Regions from separate parts of the Homo sapiens genome. Here region 1 is linked to region 2. Evidence: fine-mapped expression QTL. Tissue or cell type: lung. Region 2 holds a variant in brackets; the other region holds the start of a gene. Each region is shown on its reference strand, or each on the opposite one.

The links. PIP is the estimated chance that this variant, and not a neighbour inherited with it, causes the effect.
Region 1: it holds the start of IFI6, and the variant in region 2 is the best candidate, but not a certain one, in a credible set for the expression of IFI6 in lung (TOPMed, PIP 0.62).

The regions. Positions count from the first base shown.
Region 1 is chr1:27,670,880-27,673,796 of GRCh38, forward strand. It overlaps IFI6 (interferon alpha inducible protein 6), which reads right to left and starts at 1,313. Exons shown (of 5, transcript NM_002038.4): 1 at 1,244-1,313. RefSeq lists an enhancer at 1,345-1,684.
Region 2 is chr9:21,412,383-21,415,299 of GRCh38, forward strand. No RefSeq gene overlaps it. Among named protein-coding and RNA genes, the nearest start is that of IFNA8, 4.7 kb to the left of the region's middle. The variant C/G (reference allele first, on the strand shown) is at 1,422.

The DNA.
Region 1 (2,917 bases), not on the chromosome of region 2:
AGTTATCACTCAAAAGATATTTATCACTTTGAAGATTCCAAGGATTTTAGGAGTTGTATGCCAGGAACTGGGGGATGAAAAAATATATTTTACAATATCACAAGGGATAAAGGTCACACAGCAAATTGTGCAACATGGGTACACATTCAAGACAGTCAGAATTCATGAACCTATGCTCTTTCCTTTATACCACAAAACTGGAAAATGCATATGCCCTCAGACTCACCTCTAATATGATCTTTGTCAGATCAATGCTATTTTCTTAAGTTAAAAAGAAAAACAAGAAACTCCTCTCATGTATTGAGTACTTAGCACTTTATGGCACGCAGTCCACTTGTACCTATAACAACACCACGAAGTAGGTACCATTGTTATCAACCACATGTTATAGATAAGGAAACTGAAGCTCAGAGAGGTTAAGTAATATTCCCAAGGCTGCCTAGCCAGGTCATGGCAAAGTCAGGGTTTAAACCCACAATTGGCTAATACCCAAGCCCACATTTTTTTTTTTTTTTTTTTGAGATGGAGTCTTTCTCTGTCGCCCAGGCTGGAGTGCAGTGGCGCAATCTCATCTCACTGCAAGCTCCACCTCCCAGGTTCATGCCATTCTCCTGCCTGCCTCAGCCTCCCGAGTAGCTGAGACTACAGGCGCCCACCACCAAGCCCGGCTAATTTTTTTTGTATTTTTAGTAGAGACAGGGTTTCACTGTGTTAGCCAGGATGGTCTCGATCTCCTGACCTCGTGATCCGTGGGTCTCGGCCTCCCAAAGTGCTGGGATTACAGGCGTGAACCACCACGCCCGGCCACCAAGCCCACATTTTTAACAACCACTCCAGATGGCTTCATCTATCCTTAAAGATGAACTCACTGTCACATTGGATCCTATAATAAAGGGGATTCTAAAATCATCCAGTCCTTTGAGCAGCAAAGGCAACTTAACTTTCCTTTTACAGAGGAAGTAATTAAGGCTCCAAGAGGTGACAGTGTTAAGGCCACAGATCGCTGATATTGCACCTGTAAGCTGGGTCTCATGCCACTTGGGGTTTTGCATCCCATCTCCCTAAAAATCTCCAACCCATCCTCTTAGACAAGTCCCAGCCCAGAGCACTAAAAGGGACCCAGGAGTGCTGCCTCCCAGGAGAAGGGGCCTCCTGGCTCTCAGAACATGAGATTTACAGGCAGACAGGCAGCCTGGCAGAGGGTGGCAGCTTGATGCCCACACTTCATAGCTCCTGAGTTTACCTTGGAGGAGAGAAGAGAAGCAATCTTCAGCCCGGAGCCTGCTGATAGATGGGCACAGCAGCGAGTAAACGGTTCTCCGGCTGAAGGCTGGCTTTTTATCATCACTTGTGGATCCTCCCACGTCTCACCCTAGGCAGCCAATCCCTGTCGGAGTTTCTATTTCTGCACTCTGCAGTTTCATTTTCCCCTCTCTCCCAGCTCCTGCACTCTGCAGAGTTTCATTTTCCCCTCTCTCCCAGCTCCGCCCAGCGGGAACATTTGTGTGCTGCCTGCTGGCAGAAAAATGCACTTCAAGCTGAGGACTTTTGGAGCCGCTAAGGGTATTCAAAGCATGTCACACTATGATGAGAGCCACGGCCATACTGGGCTTAGTGAAGCCTGATCACCAGCTCCCCCTGGGGCACACAGGCCTTTCACCATTCAGTCCAATTAGTAAACAACACCTATCATTTATTGAGCACTTGCTGCATGCCAGGGTCTGTGCAAAGTGCTCTATTTACATGATCTTTTTCCAATCCCACAGTAGTCATGTGACATACCATATGCTGTTTATAAACCCCCAGAACTTTGGAAATTAAGTCACTTTGTTCCATTGTTCTCTCAGGCTGGCTGCTTCTGGGTCATGGGCATATGGTAAGACCAGTGAAGCCTGTGTTCATGTGGCCATCATGATAGATCTTGAGTTTCAAGATGGGTCCCCTGGCCCTAGGTAATGAACTGAGCATTCTTTAAAGCCTTTGGATGGTGATGCTTGAAGTGCTATGGGTCAGAAATGCAACCTCTATTTGGAGAACATAGAAATTCCAGTAAGGATGAATCATTGCCTTCTCCCAAGTGGAAGGGGTCTGAAATAATTGACCTGCCACCAGATGGCTGGCTATTCTCATTGAGAAATTTTGCCATATTGCTACCTGCTGCTGGCAGATTGGCTATATTTTGGCAATTGCCAGATCAGTTTTGGTGAGAGGGAGCCCAAGTTGTTGGACTCATTTCTAACCCCCATCCTTACCACCTTGGACACTCATAGGTCTATTGCAAGGCAATAGTGAGGCTAAGTTTAGAGGCTGGCTGACATCCACAGGATGGGACATCCTGGCCATTGGGCTGTAGAGCCTCCTCTGCAGCAGATGATCTCTGGTCAGCATTAACATGAGACATAGAGATCCAGGTGCTTTATGCCCATTCAGAGTTCATTCTTATGCCCCTAACCCACACCTGCTTATTCCCAATCTTCCAATCTTGTTCCATCCATGCCTTTGACCAACCAGCCAAGCCATTTGCCTCTTATTAGGAATTGGTGTATGTCTGTACTTCAGTCCATCTCTCTCTCTCTCTCTCTGCATACAGAGGGAACAACACGGTATACTGCTCCTAGTTCTGCCCCCTGGGAGGATTCACTATTATTCAGTGCCACCCCCAAATGGGGCTGTAATAGAGTGGTCCGTTTCCAGCTGATACCAAAATATTATACTGACTTATCTGTGAATTGAGTTTGACTCCTTTCCTCCATTATCTGTTGGTTGCTGGGAACACTCCATGAGGCCATATATATGGGTCAAAGAGAAAACCCAGAGAAACAGAGTTGGGCGCCACAGGACTCTGAGCTCCCTGTTTATTTAATTTACTCAAGCCTTTTAGACCCCTTTGCTCAGCCTTGAATATACCATTTCCATC
Region 2 (2,917 bases):
AGTCCCCTGGGACCAAGTGTAACAAGAGCAGCAACCAAGACTGGAGGGCAGGTTTCTGATCTATGGAGAAATCCTACCAGTTCTGGAGATTTCTCTTTGTGCTGCAAAAAAGCTACTTATTGGCGAGAAGAGACGCTAATGTTGTCCAAGTTTGTTCCTTATCCCTGGTCTATTACAAAGAGAATGAGTTTCCAGGTACAGTCAAGGCATGGACTCCTTGGGATTCGCAGTGATAGGGACACAGAGATGTAATATCTGCCCACCCTACTGTGCAGAACAGTCTACTCCCCAGGATCACCCCATCCTCATACATTGGGACTCCAGGGCACAGGTAGGGCTGCCGTTTTGTATTGGAACTTAATACTATTCACAGAAACCTCATGTTTAATGGTGCATTAAACCAGCAGTACAATCTTAATTTCACAGATTTAATCCTAATATCAGAGTTCAAACATTAACAAATTAAAACATTTTCTCACTGTCATTTTGAATAATGATCTTTCCAGTTCTTCCACTCAACAGTAAAACCCCTGCCCAGTTAGAAAAAGGAAGAATTCCCATAGAAGCTAAGGAATGTGAAAGAATAGCATTACTGTTCCCTGAGAGCTGGCGAGGTCTATTTATTCAAATGTATCAATTTTGGTAGAGATTGAGAGGCATTCCTATAATTGACACCATATATTCTGGAGTTATTTCACTAGGAAGTGTGTGTGAATTGCTGAGGTAGCAGGGAGGGAGAGCCTACAACTGCACAGGGGCCTCTTGAGTCTTTTCCTCCAGCTACACACTCAACATCTGGATTTGCTGCTTTCAGACTGGGAGTTGACCAGGGCCTTAGACAAATTACAAAAAATTGTATTGTTTGCAGTCTTCTTCTGTCCTCTAGAGGGGAGGATGGAGAAATTTAGGAGTGACCAACGGGGAGGTAATTGAATCATGGGGGTCGGTCTTTCCCATGGTGTTCTCGTGATAGTGAATAAGTCTCATGAGATCTGATGGGTTTATCAAGGGTTTCTCCTTTTGCTAATTCCTCATTTTTCTCTTGCCAGCACCATGCAAGAAGTGCCTTTCACCTCCTGCCGTGATTCTGAGGCCTCCCCAGCCATGTGGAACTAACTGTAAGTCCAATTAAACCTTTTGTTCCTAGTTTCAGGTATGTCTTTATTAGCAGCATGAAAACAAAGTAATACATCTTCCCTCTCCTTTCTTTAAGCAGAAGGAAGGGTCTCATTTGGAGTTCTGAACTGTGCTTCCTGGGGTTACGGGAGAAGTGTTGCAAGTACTCCTTTAACCTTTGTTGCTGGTGTCTCAGTAGGTCACACGCCCCCTTCCTGTTCGCTGCCTCTGAACCCAGCTCAGCACTAGGAGTTGCTTAGAAATTACAGTCCTTGTGGCCTAGGCTGCCTTTCAAGTTTATTTAG[C/G]GTCCCAGAGCCCTTTAGTCCATGGTGGGGAGGTTTGCTGGAACTCAATCTCCCATCACTGGGATAGGACATTTCCCTCTGGCTAGGGCTGGTTCAAATGCTCCCTCTATGGGCAGGCACAGCTGAGTACAGCCCTGTGCTGCTTTCTGCTGTCAGAGGGCAGCCATGAATTTAAGGCAAAGTCTCACACGTACTGTACTCTCCCTCTCCCAAGTGCACAGATTCTCCATGCCATGTGGCTGCTGCTAGGGATGGAGGCAGGGTGGGGATGGCAATTCAAGACTGTCTTTCCTACCCTCTCCAGTGCCTCTTTTAGTGATATAGAGTTAAAATCAGACACTGTGAGTGTTCACAAGATTTTTGGTTCCTATGAAGATGCTCCCTTTGCATAGACAGTTGTCAAACTTGATGTTCCTACCGAGAGGGTGGGACCATCGATGGTGCCCTCCATTCAGCCACCTTGCTCTACCCTCCATAATGTCTTTCAAATGTTATAACCTCTTTCATTTTTTTCAATGCTTTAAAAAAATTATATTCAGGTTGTTGTAAAAGTTTTATGACTTGGCTCCAAACTGTCACCTTGCCCTGGAAATCTCTATAGCCATATCTTGCATCATATCCTGGAGTTATTAACCAGTTATGTGTTCTACAGTAGTCAGGAATCAAGCAGTGGGTCTGGAGGACCAGGACAGAGAGTGAAGTTGGAGGGCAGTGAGTGCTGAGATGCCCCACCCATTCAGGTCCCTCTGTAGTGCCAAACATTACTTCCCCCTACACTCCCAACCCAGCTGAGGTGCATCTAGTTTACCTGAGAAGGGCCACAGGGAGCATGGAGAAGCACTCCAGTTCCCATGGAGACTTGGCAAGGGCTAACCATGCAGCACTAGCTGGAGACAGCTAAGTTTTTAGAGCCTTGGAAGCAAGAGTGTGAATATGACCTTGTTTTGACCCCTCCTGCCAGGTGATTCATGAGCTGTGGGGGGTCCAGACCCACTGATGTCCAGTCAGGCCACAAAATGCAGTAAATGGAAGGAGGCCTTCCCCCATACTTATGACCCAAAGAACTGGTAAAGAATGCAGGAGCTCATCTGTTCTTATGTTTAGAAGTTTCCATGTTCTGATTCCCCTAAGAGGAGACTGCACCAGACATAGGACTCTCATTTGTTTAAAAACAAACAAACAAAACAAAACAAAAAAAAACAGAATACATCACAACACAAAGAAGTTGAAAAAAAGAGGAGCAGTCTGATATCTTGGAAGGAGAATAGAGATGTTTAAAACATTGACTGCAACAGTGGCAGGTCCTCAAGAGATGGAACTACGTGAATGAGCAGATGGAGTTAACTGTTCAGATCCTCTGATCATAGAGAGGGAGAGAAGATTGAAAGTGGATGAAGACTGAAGCACAGAGTCGTCTCACAGAGACATGGCCAACCTCAGTGACTCCAGCATGGGAGACACTGATAGACCACAGTAGCCTGCAGAGTTTTGGAAGG